2 linked regions of the Homo sapiens genome follow. The gene in region 2 interacts genetically with the main gene of each other region. Each region holds a gene or a part of one and is shown on either strand. Other genes may lie near its edges.

Evidence for each region.
Region 1: of RASA1 (region 2) and BTRC, changing one suppresses a phenotype caused by changing the other (phenotypic suppression), as found in Homo sapiens cells (one study listed by BioGRID).

What each region holds. Positions count from the first base shown.
Region 1 is NC_000010.11:101,356,909-101,364,472, reverse strand, and holds part of BTRC (F-box/WD repeat-containing protein 1A), read right to left. Parts: intron 1-7,564. UniProt on the Homo sapiens protein: Substrate recognition component of a SCF (SKP1-CUL1-F-box protein) E3 ubiquitin-protein ligase complex which mediates the ubiquitination and subsequent proteasomal degradation of target proteins. Recognizes and binds to phosphorylated target proteins.
Region 2 is NC_000005.10:87,375,809-87,383,372, reverse strand, and holds part of RASA1 (ras GTPase-activating protein 1), read right to left. Parts: intron 6,981-7,564; coding exon 6,808-6,980; intron 6,493-6,807; coding exon 6,333-6,492; intron 4,978-6,332; coding exon 4,835-4,977; intron 3,639-4,834; coding exon 3,523-3,638; intron 2,865-3,522; coding exon 2,778-2,864; intron 1-2,777. UniProt on the Homo sapiens protein: Inhibitory regulator of the Ras-cyclic AMP pathway. Stimulates the GTPase of normal but not oncogenic Ras p21; this stimulation may be further increased in the presence of NCK1.

The sequences.
Region 1 (7,564 bases), on a different chromosome or scaffold from region 2:
GGTTATTATGTATGACCTTGATGTAAACTCTGTTACAGTTCAAATTCTGTTACAAATGCCATTCCAGTGACATCAAGCTTATCAGTCCCAAAGATAGAAGAATAGCACCATGATATTGCTGAACTTTTCAGGGCATCACTGTGGAATAGTCAAGATTCTGATTATTTCTTTATGCTTTTTTTCTACATAACATGAAGAGAAGAAATCTGCTGTATTACATTATGATTCTAGGAGTATCCAATCAACAGGTATTATTCAGCAACCAAAATGAAAAAGTGCTATCAGGAGAGTGTCAACAATAGAGAGCAGAAAGAAGAAAGCACAATAGTTGTCATAATAAGCATCTTACCATTCTTCTCTAAATCAACTGTACTAGATCACTGCAGTAGATTACTGTCACTATAGTATTGTGCAAGTTACTCCCTGCCCTGCTTGACTTTGGGCTTTTGACTTTGAGTAAGCCAAGTTTAGATCATCCACTACCCAGCAAACCCACAATTTCAAGAGAATAAATACCTATCACTGTAAGATGCTGGTATTTTGTGATTCTAAACGCCAATAGCTAACTGAAATGATACTGTGACAACAGTAGAGTCTTACTGCACTTCATCGGTAATTTAAATAATCAGGAAACCTATATGTAAATCTGGACAGTAATTCTTCCACTCTGGCCACCGCTTGACTGCCTACCTCAGAGAGATATCTGTCAAAATCTATCTATTCATCAAGATCTAATATGAAGCTTTCTTCTACAAAGCTGCTAAAGAGCTCTTCAGTTAAAACGAACTTCCCGGCCAGGCACAGTGGCTCACACCTGTAATCCCAGCACTACTAAAAAATACAAAACTTAGCCGGGCGTGGTGGTGCACACCTGTAGTCCCAGCTACTCGGGAGGCTGAGGCAGGAGAATCACTTGAACCCGGGAGGTGGAGGTGGCAGTGAGCTGAGATTGCGCTACTGCACTCCAGCCTGGGTGACAGAGTAAGACTCCATCTCAAAAAAAAGAAAAAACAAAAACAAAAACAAAAACGAACTTCCCCTCCCTTAAATTCTATAGCACTTTGTGCTTCTATTTTAGCATTTACCAAAGTGTGCCTTAACAGATATTAAGGAAACATGCCACCATATCCCACAGTTTTCCTGCTCTTCAAAGAGGAAGTATACTGCACGTAAGTAAGGCTCTCAAGTCAGACTGCCTGGATTTAATCTCAGGATACCTGCTAGCATGACTTTGAGCAAGTTACTTAACCTCTCTGGAATAATTTTCCTTAAATGAGAAATGGGGATAATAATAATACTGAATCTATCTCACAGGATTACTGGGAGGATTAAATGAAATAATATATATAAAGAGCTTAGAACAGTATATTTAGAACAGCAAATAGTACATGCTAAATAATTATAGTCAAACCTCCATAGCTGCAGGGAACTGGTTCCAGGATCCTCCCATCGGATACCAAAATCCACAGATACTCAAAAGTCTCTTATAGTGCCTTAAACGGCACATAACCTACACACATCCTCCCATATATTTCAAATCATCTCTAGATTACATATAATAATGCAATGTAAATGTTATGTAAGTAGTTGTTATACGTATTGTTTTTAATTCCCACTTTTATTGTTATATTGTTATTTTTTATTGTGGTCTCTTTTTCTGAATATTTTCAATCAATGGTTGAATTAGCAGATATGGAACCCACAAATATGAGGGACCAGCTGTTAGCTGTTAGCTATTCGTGGCTGACTGTATTAACAAAACACAAAAAATTTCTTCTGGCCGGGCGTGGTGGCTCACACCTGTAATCCCAGCACTTTGGGAGGCAGAGGCGGGCGGATCACCTAAGGTCGGGAGTTCAAGACCAGCCTGACCAACATGGAAAAACTCCGTCTCTACTAAAAATACAAAATTAGCTGGGTGTGGTGCCGCATGCCTGTAATCCCAGCTACTCGGGAGGCTGAGGCAGGAGAATAGCTTGAACCCGGGAGGCGGAGGTTGCTGTGAGCCGAGATTGTGCCATTGCACCCCAACCTGGGCAACAAGAGCGAAACTCCATCTCAAAAAAAAAAAAATTTCTTGCACCTCTGCATTCTCCTGTAATTGACAGCATCAGGTCAGGTCACAAGCCTAGGAGCAGGAAGGCAAAATCAGATACCCTGAAAGGAAAGCCAAACTACAGAAAGGAGCAAGACTTTAGAAAGAAATTCCAACTCAAGGCCGGGCACGGTGGCTCACAGCTGTAATCCCAGCACTTTGGGAGGCCAAGGCGGGCGAATCACAAGGAGGAGATCGAGACTGTCCTGGCCAACATGGTGAAACCCCATCCCTACTAAAAACACAAAAATGAGCTGGGTGTGGTGGTACGTGCCTGTAATCCCAGCTACTCGGGAGGCTGAGGCAGGAAAATCATTTGAACCAGGGAGTCGGGGGTTGCAGTGAGCTGAGATCATGCCACTGCACTCCAGTCTGGCGACAGAGTGAGACTCCGTCTCAAGGGGGAAGAAAAAAAAATATCCAACTCAGAAGGTTCATCTTAGGCAGGCAGAAATTCTCTCTCCCTTAGCTCTAGGGCTTTTGCTCCCTTGCTTCCCAATCCCCACCTTGGCCACATATAAAGGTAATCCAGGAACTAGCAGGTAGTGCCTCAGAGAACAATCATATTCTTAGTTCAACATTAATCTCAGTTATCTTTTTCACTTGTTTATCTCTGAGTCTTCTGTACAATGTTATAGCTGGTCTTATAGCTCTATCTCAATCAGGCTATGGGAAACTAAAAGGAATAAGCCTCAGACTATTCTAATTATCCAGAAATTCTCCCCAAGTACAGCAGAAATATTGTGGAACACTAGTTGAAACTGTTAAGATCCAGTGGACCCTTCCCATAGAGATTTCTTCCCCCCTCCATTGCCTATTTTAGAATGCTGAGATTGACTTATTACGGAAAGAGAAAGTTTTATTTTTATTGACTAAGTTGTTAAACTTTGGTAAATATTTTCTATTTCATCCTCAATGGATTCTCACTATACACATTTAGAAAGGACTTCTGTGCTATATTAAAATATTGCTGGCCAGGTGCGGTGGCACATGCCTGTAATCCCAGCACTTAGGGAGGCTGAGGCGGTTGGATCACAAGGTCAGGAGATCGAGACCATCCTGGCTAACACGGTGAAACCCCATCTCTACTAAAAATACAAAAAATTAGCCAGGTGTGGTGACACGTGCCTGTAATCCCAGCTATTTGGGAGGCTGAGGCAGGAGAACTGTTTGAACCCAGGAAGCTGAGGTTGCAGTGAGCTGAGATCGCACCACTGCACTCCAGCTTGGGCAATAGAGCGAGACTCCGTCTCAAAAAAAAAAAATTGCTAAAGCTGGGCATGGTGGCTCAAGCCTGTAATCCCAGCAATTTGGAAGGCTGATGCAGGAGAATAACTTGAGGCCAGGAGTTCCAGACCAGCCTGGGCAACACAGCAAGACCCCATCTCTACAAAAAAATAAAAATATAGCCAGGTGTGGTGGCACAAACCTGTAGTCCCAGCTACTCAGGAGGCTGAGGCAGAGGCATTGCTTCAGCCCAGGAGTTTGAGGCTGCAGGGAGCTCAGCCTACTGATGGCAGAGCTGCGCCCAAATAAAATAAAATACTGCTAGAAAGTAGGTGAGATTTAAAAAGTATTTTAGGCTGCGAGTGGTGGCACGCACCTGTAGTCCCAGCTACTGGAGAGGCCGAGGCACAAAGATCACTTAACCCTAGCCTGAGTTCAAGGCCAACCTGGCAACAGAGCAAGCAAGATCCCATCTCTAGAGGCCAGACGCGGTAGCTAATGCCTATAATCCCAGCACTTTGGGAGGCCGAGGCGGTCGGATCACCTGAGGTCAGGAGTTCAAGAATAGCCTGGCCAACATGGTGAAACCCCGTCTACAAAAATACAAAAATTAGTCAGGGATGATGGCAGGTGCCTGTAATCCCAGCTACTTAGGAGGCTGAGACAGGAGAATTGCCTGAACCTGGGAAGCGGAGGTTGCAGTGAGTTGAGATCGTGCCATTGCACTCCAGCCTGGGTGACAGAGCAAGACTCCATCTCAAAAAAAAAAAAAAAAAAAAAGCAGATCCCATCTCTAGGCCAGGCATAGTGACTCACGCCTGTAATCCCAGCACTTTGGGAGGCCAAGGTGGGCGGATCACTTGAAGTCAGGAGTTCGAGACCAGCCCGGGCAACACGGTGAAACCCTGTCTCTACTAAAAACACAAAATTTAGCTGGGCGTGGTGGCACATGCCTGTATTCCCAGCTACCTGGGAGGCTGAGGCACAAGAATTGCTTGAACCCAGGAGGTAGGGGCTGCAGTGAGCCAAGGTTGCACCACTGTACTCCAGCCTGGGTGACAGAGTGAGACCCTGTCTCAATTAAGTTTTTTTAAAAAAAAGAGATCTCTTTTGAAAGTTTATTTTCTAATTTAGCAATAAATAATTTCTAAAACTACTCAAAGTTGAATTTTTACTCCACATCTAATAATTCACTTTTGATAATTTATGAAAATCTACTATAAACATAAATTTAGAAAATTAGCAAAAAGAGGCCGGACACGGCAGCTCACGCCTGTAATCTCAGCACTTTGGGAGGCCAAGGCGGGCAGATCACCTGAGGTTGGGAGTTCGAGACCAGCCTGACCAACATGGAAAAGCCCTGTCTCTACCAAAAATACAAAATTAGCTGGGTGTGGTGGTGCATGCCTGTAATCCCAGCTACAGGGGAGGCTGAGGAAGGAGAATCACTTGAACCTCAGAAGCAGAGGTTGCAGTGAACTGAGTTTGCACCATTGCACTCCAGCCTGGGCAACAAGACCAAAACTCCATCTCAAAAAAAAAAAAATACAACAAAATTAGCCAGGCAAGGTGGTACACGCCTGTAATTCCAGCTACTTAGGAGGCTGAGGCAGGAGAATCATTTGAACCCAGGAGGCGGAGGTTGCAGTGAACCGAAATTGTGCCACTGCACTCCAGTCTGGGCAACAGAGCGAGACTCAGGGTATCTCAGACAAAAAAAAAGAAAATAGGCAAAAAGAATTACCACTAATTTCATACCCCAACACCTATAAGAGTACCCAGAAAACAAACTGTTTGAAAGCCAATTTAAACTGGGAATAGGTAAAGTATACACAAAAACTCAGACAACTTAAACTAAGAACTAGTTTCAGATGTTCATCCCACTACCTGGTAATCAATTTCACTGATGTAAAGAAAATTCCATTACAGTGAAACATCTGACAATTTATTTTAAAATGTAATCTGTTTAGATACCTCTGTTTCCTGAAGTAAGTAAGCAAGTTTACTTAATCACATTAATTCACCCAGTATTATGTCAACAGTGACATCATTAAGGGAAGTCACGCAGGAGATCATGTTAGTGCCTTCCGAAGTTAACCTCAAAAAAAGAGATGCCTCCTAAACATTCCTAGCATTATGACCCACAAACTTGGCCGATACCATTTTTATTTTTAGCCTTAACATCCAACTAGCATAGCACCTACGGTAGCAAGTCTCAAAAGGTGGCCCCCAGCAATTCCCCCTTCCTTGTTTATGCACGCCACCCTTCCTATCAATAGGTAGACATTATTTCTCCTCCCTCTGTAGTTGGCCTTGACTGGCTTTGACCCACAGTGACATTCTTGGACTTCCAAATCTAGGATTTAGAAGACTGGCAGTCTCTACCTCCTGTCTCCTGGAATGTCCCTTCTTAGAACCTTGCCACCACACTTTAAGGAAATCCAAGCAGCCAGGTAGAGAAAGGCCCATATAGAGGAGAAGTGAAGGTCTTTCCCACACCTCAGCCAATACCAAGTGAAGCAGAAAAACCATCAGATTTGAGGGGAAAAATAATTGTTTTTTTTAAGCTAAGTTTTGAGGTTGTCTGTTAAACAGCAAATATTTACCCTTTATACTGTTTCATTTATCTATCAGCTCTATAAATAAAACAATACATTCTAAAATTATTTCATCTATTTCAAGCTACTGTACTTGATTCTGGGATTGGCTGGACAAGAATATATTTATCCTGTTTTTAAAAATAAACGTGGCTTGGCAAGGTGGCTCACGCCTGTAATCCCAACAATGGGAGGCCAAGGCAGGAGGACCCCTTGAGCCCAGGAGTTCAAAAACCACCCCTGTCAACAAAGGGCGACCCTTGTCTCTACAAAAACAAAAAAGAAAAAAAAAATAGCCAGCATAGTGGTGTGTGCCTGTAGCCACTTGAGACGCCGAGGCAGGAGGATCATGTGAGCCTGGGAGTTTGAGGCTGCAGCAAGCTATGACTGCACTCTAGCCTGGGCAACATAGTGAGACCCTGTCTCAAAGGTGAAAACAAAAATAAAGTTCAAATTCCTCCTCAGTATGTCTTTTCAACCCCTATCTTAAACGTGCTTGTGTGTGTGTGTTTGTGTGTTTTGGGGTCTATATTCCCTCAATCATTTTCATTTCTCTTCTTAGGTTCTCTTCAAGTTTCCATTTATACTTTTGTTAACCAAAAAAGTATTAAGAAAGGTCCTTGAGGACCTGCTAAAGCTGAATGAGAGACATTAGCACGTAAGTTAATGTAAACCGTTGCTTTCAATATCATTTATTTGTTTTTAAAAGTTAAACATTCTGCTTAAACTTTTTTCACAAGTAAAACAATAAGCTTTAAGTCTCGATCACGTGTGAATTATGGTCATCTCTGAATCAGCAGTCTTATTAACAGGATTTTATTGTAAAATTCTTTATCAAGGCACTTTAGTATAGCAATGAGCAAATTTGTGAGAGTATCCATTTCATTCTGGCATTTTAAACTAATTTTACATTTGTTTAAACCATGGAAATCATGACATCTGTATAAAAGTTGTCATTAGCGATTCACAATTGAGGGAAAGGTTAAGACCAGAACAAAGCCAAATAGTAATAAAAATGCCCGTTTGATTAAAAGGATAGTTCTTCCATGTGTACTGTGCACTAATTATTTGATGCTAGCTCAAATAGCTTCCTTTTTTTTTTTTTTTTTTTTTGAGACAGAGTCTCGCTCTGTCACCCAGGCTGGAGTGTAATGGCACGATCTCAGCTCACTGCAACCTCCACCTCCTGGGTTCAAGTGATTCTACTGCCTCAGCCTCCCGAGTAGCTGGGACTACAGGTGCGCGCCACCAGGCCTGGCTAATTTTTGTATTTTTAGTAGAGACAGGGTTTCACCATGTTGGCCAGGATGGTCTCAATCTCCTGACCTCGTGTTCCGCCCGCCTCAGCCTCCCAAAGTGCTGGGATTACAGGCATGAGCCACCACGCCTGGCCAATATCTTCCTTTTTTGTTTGTTTGTTTTTTTGAGACGGAGTCTTGCTCTGTCGCCCAGGCTGGAGTGCAGTGGCGCGATCTTGGCTCACTGCAAGCTCCACCTCCCGGGTTCACGCCATTCTCCTGCCTCAGCCTCCCGAGTAGCTGGGACTACAGGCGCACGCTGCCACACCCGCCTAATTTTTTGTATTTTTAGAGAGACGGAGTTTCACCATGTTAGCCAGGATGGTCTCGATCTCCTGACCTCGTGA
Region 2 (7,564 bases):
TAGTATCCTCAGGAATCTTAAGAATTTCTGAAATACCACAGGAGTAGAAATAAACTTTTTATATAAGCATAGTTCTGTACAATTTTAGAACTTCACACACCCTCATTTCTTAATTTATTTAAACAGAACAGCCTAAGTTGGTTGCATTGATTTTGTTGATGATTCACATAAAAATAAGAATCCATTGCACTAGAGAAAAAGTGACTTATTGATCAATGAAAATGTCTATAATAGAACACTGGAAAGGTTTTCTTTTTTCCTTTTTTCTTTGTTTTCTTTGAGATAGGGTTTTGTTCTGTCACCCAGGCTGGAGTGCAGTGGCCCACAATCACAGCTCACTGCAACCTTGAACCCCTGGGATCAAACAATTCTCTTGCCTCAGGCTTAGAGTAGTTAGGACTACAGGTGCACATCACCATACCTGGCAATTTTTTTTTTTTTTTAATTATTTTTGTAGAAAGCAGAGTCTCGCTACGGTGCCCAGGACAATTTCAAATTCCTGGCCTCAAGCAATCCTCCTGTCTTGGTCTAAACATGTTGAGATTACAGGCTTGAGCCACCATGCCCAGCCTGAAAAACTTTTAAGACAAGACATTAGGAATTCTAAAGTTTTAAAAAGTTGTCAAATTATAAAACAATAGCAAAAGCAAAAATTATACTAACAGCTGTCATATATGATTTTATCTGCTAATTTTACTTTGGGACAATGTCAGTGTTAAAAGCTTGCATAGATACTCCTATTCTGCCTCCTTTAGTCACTGGTAGGGAGGATATGTTGTCATGTAGATAATTTCTAATTTCCTTTTAAGAAGAATCCACACTAATAATTAACCTCTTACTTGCCCCATGTAAAGACAAGCATTATTCCTAAAATAATGAATTATGCAATTCCTTCTACAGATTGATAGACATAATCCATGTAAAGACAAGCATTATTCCCAAAATAATGAGTTACGCAATTCCTTCTATAGATTAATAGATACAATCTCTGTTCTCTGTTAGAGTGGATTACCCAATTTCTTAGCATTTACCTTTGAACATGTACCTGTTTGCTAATTTTTGGACTCTTAGAAAGTAAAGATGTTACTTCTCAAACAGCATTTATAGAAATTCTAATATATTGGCTGGGCATGGTGGCTCATGCCTGTAATCCAACACTTTGGGAGGCCGAGGTGGGTGTACCACCTGAGGCCAGGAGTTCAAGACCAGCCTGGCCAACATGGTCTAACCCCATCTCTACTAAAAATACAAAAATAGCCAGGTATGGTGGTGCATGCCTGTAATCCAGCTACTTGGGTGGATGAAGCACAAGAATCTCACTTGAACCTGGGAGGCGGGGGTTGCAGTAAGCCGAAATCACACCACTGCACTCCAGCATGGGCAACAGAGCAAGACCCTGTCTCAAAAAAATAACAATTAAGTCTTTAATTTTGGACTTCCCAAATTTAAAGAATCTTGTAAACTTTACTTGAAAATATTGTGATAATTATACATAGTAGGTCTATGAGCCTGAAACCTAACCTTGGCAAAAATGCCCTAAAACACCCTCTTGCACGAAACAGTTTACAATTTCCTGCTGTGTTTGCTTAACAGTTATACTTGTTTGAAACTTACAAATTTATAGAACAGTTTTAATTTACATCTCACACGTAACTGTGCTGGAATATTATGCTTGTAATTCTTTTCTATTCCTCCCAATCACCACTAATGCCAAGAAAAACAGAATCTGTAGTTCTTAAATATTATGTCATATCATAACCAAGAGAAATATTACCTGCCCCCCAAAAAAAGAAATAGAAGCCCCTTGACAAAATTTAGGTTGGAGGCAGGATTAACACATTTTCAAAACAAACTGTGTAATAATGGTGTTAATGGTTGCCTAATTATTTTACATATAGCATGACATGACAGTGTATATTCTAAATAACAAATTATATTATTAGAAAACTGCTGTATTCCATGACGCTTTCGCATTAAACTTCCATTTGCCTGGAATTAGTTGGGGTATTAGTTGGAGTATGCTTAACAAAAGCAAAAGCCTACAATAAGACTCAAGGATATCAGATTGGGTCTTAGAAAGTTACCTTTAGTTCTGCCTTAGCCACCAGCTTTCTATAAAACCTTAGTTCAACTTAACCTCTCCAGACAGATCTGCTTCTTCATTGGAAAAATAAGTTAGAATAATGATAATGAAGTAACCTTACGTAAGCTCCCAAATTCCATGATTTGCCAAAGCAGTTCTTCCTATAGAATAATGATAATGAAGTCCCTTTATATAAGCTCCCAAATTCCATGATTTGCCAAAGCAGTTCTTCCTAATTATGGTACAATGAGCAGACTGAAACACAGCTTCAGAACTACATGTTCTGGTTCTGATTAGCTCAGAGTCACAGATTGTAACAAACCAATTAATATCTAAATCGGTCAATTACTGCCCTTCTCTCTCACTGCCAATCAATGTGTGTGTATGTATGAAGAATACTATATGAAGTTAGCTACAGATTTTGTTATATAACTTTTAGCCTCATCTTGTAAGGGTTTAAAAATCCCCAATACTTGACTATAAATGAATGTTCATGTTTTTAGAAAATGCAAACGGCAGCTAAATCTCACAGTAACTTTCAGTTTAGGAGCCATCTGGACTTAGAAAATATGCAACAGGGCTTTGACATAAAAGCCAAAGAAAAAAGCATTGAATTGTATATTGTTATTCCTCAATTTTTCACAATTATCCACCTATTAGTATGTGATTTAACAAATCAATTGATGAGCCTTACCTAACAACTCTTGTTCTCATGGTGGTATTTGTAGGCCACTTATGCTGAACAGATTTCTGTAAACACCCATAAATATATCTCAATGTCCTGCCAAAATAACACAATCATCTCAACACAGAAAGCAAGTGAAAACACTGATCTCCTAGCAGCCAAAAGCTTAATTTACCCAAATATACCACAGTTCAATAAAACTGGCCTTTTACCCAAAAAAGTATTTTGCCACAGGTAATGAGGCATTTAGCAAGGGGTAAGGAAAACTTTATCCACTAAGTTTATCATCAATTTATTCAGTCAACTTCCTGACATTTACTTTCAGATATAGAGAACCAACCAGCTGCAAATTCTGGGGAGCAAGATTTAGACTTAAGTTAACTTCTACCTGAACAAGTGAGTTCACTAATACTGGAGGCCGACAAGCATATTAACAGAGTGATTAGTCTATCAAGTATAGACTAAATGGATAGACAAGATATCTTTTACAATCTCAAATCTGAAACTATAAACCTCTATTCACTCCCCAAGCTACTACAGTACAAACCAGACATATTGGCTTGTACGAAAATAATGGGTGGTTTTATTAAGACAGCTATTTTCTTTAAATACAATTCATCTCATAAAGATTAACCATGACTTTTTCAGAGTATAATAATATTAGGACAACAGAAAAGCTTTCACGTTTTAGAAATAGAAATTTCTGAAGACATAGATACACAATTTCTTGTCAAATGAAAATTTCACCACTTACGGTGGAAGTATTTCTGAAGCCATGAATATTTTCTCCACAAGCTCTGAAAGTATGTTCAATAGGTGTGTTAAATTAGTGTTCACATCTTCATTTTTTTCTAACTTTGATGGACTTAACTAAAAGAAGGAATAAATCAATATAAATGCATGTTGGCAATGACAAATGCAAATGAATAGAGGAAAACAAGTAGTTATAGTTTTCGAGGTTGTCTATTTTTCGGTATCTCTGTGTGTATTGATCTTTTTTCTTTGTATAATGGGAGTTTTTAAGTAGTTTTCTCTATGGAACTCCTCCTGGTAGGTCTGTTACCATTTATTCCCAATTAGCCAACTGAAAAGCAAACAGTGCTTAGTCAATTCTATTTATTTGAGGGGAAAAAAAGCTGATTAAAAGCTTTTCTGAATGAGGCTTATTTAATGGCTAATAAAAATATCAAATGCCTTAGGCAGAATCACAAACCTTTCTCAGAACTTTTCCTGTAACCCTTCTGATCTAGTGTCAGCAGAGTACATTTATCTATGGAAGTCGGAATTCCGTAGCCTATCTCTAAAGTCCAGAGACTCCCTACCTACCTGCTGCACTTCTGTGTCATCCTTATGTTAGGCCAACTATGGCATTACCCCACATTTCCAACATTAAATCACTAATTTCTTCCCTTCAAGTTATTAGTATGAATCGACACCTTCGTGCAGGATTAACATTTGCTAGGTCCCAGTGTCCATTGTCAAAAACAATTCCTTAAACTGATTTTTATATCAGATCTAATATATATTATTTCTTTGTAGTTGCTTTACCATTAAAATGAGAGAATATGTGTGTGAGATTCCACTTACTGTCTTAATAGTGTATTATGAATTTATACTGAAACTTTAATAATCCTAAAAAGATTTTTTTGTTTTAGTTGAGGTTATCTCATAATTCTCCCCTCGCAAAAAAACCTTCAAGAACAAACCAAGATGTAATGAAGTGCTACATAGGTTATATAATGAGTCACTAACAAAACCTTCAATTTATCTTATGCACGCTTTCTGTAAGTAGTATATAGATTATTAGTACAGTAGAGGAAATGACAAAGTATTTTCATGAATTTCTGGTGCAACTTGATGGTTTTTAATCCCAAAATAAAGTACATCTTTTTTAAGAAGTCCATTTTGCAGAACATTTTTATAAATGTATTACAGACAGGTGTAACTGCTATGAGGAATAATTTTAGAAATTTAATATATTTTCCTTAAAATGTAATTGGCTACAAATTATTACCTATTAAAATATGTTCTTTGCAAAAATACTTATTAAAACATTAAATTCTTACCTCACAAGACTGCTTGCTTTCCATTATCTTTAAAATAGAGTCTTTCAAAGCATGATGAACAAACTGTGTAGCAGTGGCTTTCATATACTGCTCCATCAAGGTGCTTGCAAGTGTTGTGGCTCGAAATAGGGTAGTGGCTTCATCTACACAAATATTTACATTAGAAGATTATTTGTAAAGGACTGACCTAATGTGACCAAATTGGAAATTAAGTGAATTCATTTTACCTCAACAGGAATAGCCACTTAAATGTGCTTTTTGCGTGCAGCGTTGAAAGTACTAATTACAATGACATCCTATACTTCTACAGACTTAACTCTGTAAGACTTTCATATGTATTACCTCATTAGATCATGAACAGAAGGGATTAACACTGCCATGTTCATATGGAAAAATGAAGACTCAGAATTGTTATATGACTTAAGATCAATTAGACAGCTAATGATAAAATTAGGACCATAAATCAGCTTTGCTGCCCATTGACCCCATGCTTTGAAATTTTAGGGTTTATTTACAATTAAGGATATAACACAAAATCCCAGTATAGATTAATTTATTAGCTTAAAATATGTCTACTGAGTTTCAGTAAAATTTTAATGAAATACAAATGCTGTCAGAAAAGATAAACTCAAGTGTAAAATAAGGACCACCATTTTATCTATTCCTTGACAAATCTATATTTTGTGATGAGGAGGAAAATAGTTCTAAACTTTACTATTTATTTGGGGAACCTAGAAGCAAGAACTGTTAATGAATCAAAGTGCTTGGTGGTGTGTGTGGGCCAGGGGGAGGGTGGATTATTTTGTAAGCCATTAAAAGCACTGTGTCCAGCAGCTTGGGAACTACCTATCTATAAAAGTTAGAAATAAAATGCAGCTGACACCCAGCTTCTGTGTAATGAAGAAGTAAAAATTAAACAAGACCTGTAACCCCGGCACTTTGGGAGGCTTGAGGCAGGCGGATCACCTGAAGTCAGGAGTTCAAGACCAGCCTGGCCAACATGGTGAAAACCCGTCTCTACTAAAAAAATAAAATAAAAAATTAGCTGGGTGTGGTGGCATATGCCTGTAGTCCCAGCTACTTAGGAGGCTGAGGCAGGAGAATCGCTTGAACCTGAGAGGTAGAGGTTGCAGTGAGCCGAGACTGCGCCACTGCACTGCAGCCTGGGCGACTGAGATGCCATCTCAAAAGAAAATAAAAAACAAGAGAATACAGATAAATATGCCAAACAGTCAAGCCATTGATGTAGACACAGATACCACCTTCTTGTGGCTTCTAGTACTTATCTGCCAAAACCTACATTAGAAATATCAGCTTCCCATAGTAACCAACATAATCAGAACTGACATCCAACTGCAATTTTTAAGGAGGGAAAACAGAATAACTTATTTTGCAATATAATTTAACAATTTAGTATATTCAGAGATAGAGTCCATATATCCTTGATATAAAATCTAAACCCAGTTTCTTGTATCACACTAACATGGCCATACCATACCTTCCATGCTTATTTCTCTGTCATTTAGTGTGCATAACAACAACGATTCAAGCTTTTCGTGAAGAAAAATCCTCAGTAGGATGCTGGCCAGTAGTGTTCGGTCTTGTCCACATACATGTGATAAAGCATAGACTACATGAAGTTCCTTTTGCAGTATAAGCTAAAATGACATTTTAAAAGATTGTTTAAAGTACGTAGCATTATAAGCATGCTCCATGAGACTAACAAGAAATATGTTCTTTCACAAGTTCTTATATTTAAAATGATGTCCCATTGAATAAATTTATTTAAAATAGAATGAATTCGTAGTCTACTTATTTCTACCAAAATTACAGTATAAAACAAGGTTTAAAATCTCTGGCATCATTGTGCTACTAAGCTATGAATTACTATGTTTACCTTAATGGATCTTTTATTAAATGTTAAATGTTTCTGTTAATTCCAACAAAAACAAGACTGATAAATAATTTAATACCTCTTTAAATTCACTGTACTCTTCTTCTGGCATGATTTTTTCCATAGAGTATCGTGCTCGAACACGCAGGGACCCTGGTTCAATACCTTTTAATGGTATATGGGAGCTGAGCAGAAACCATTCATCTGTGGCATGCCCTTTCTGTAATCGGCTCAACTGGCAGCGCATAAATACTTGGGAAGAAAAACAAGCAATTATTGTTTAAAAAGAGAACACGATAATTAGTCATGCAAGTAAATTTTCCTGGTGTTCAGTCTTCCCTATGGTGTTAAATGCTTTTCATTAAAGGAGTTTTCAGTAACATCACAAATTCAATATTTAGTTGTTTATTTACTGAGTGTCTACGGTGCACTAAACTCTGATAGGTAGAGAGTACAGAGATGATTGAGATGTGTTCTTTGAGTTGCATAGAGGTCAGTTTAGTCAAGAAGGCAAGAAATCAATTATGTTTCAGCACTGGTAAGTGCTGTTAACAGTGGTGAATGCTATTCGAGTACAGAGAAATAATATCTAATTCAGCCTGTGGAGGTGAAAACTCCACTTTAAACAGGTAACCCTTGAGCGGACGAGATCTAGAGGTGTAGCTAAGAAGAAAAGTAGTGAAAAAAGAAAAAAGAGCACTTCAAATATAAGGTATGGCCTTCGTTCTGTGTCATTACTATGGGGTTTGGATTTTATCGTAAAAGTAATGGAAAACTAAAATTACTACAAAAAACTACAGAATAAACATTTTATAGAGAAATATTCAGGCTTTGAT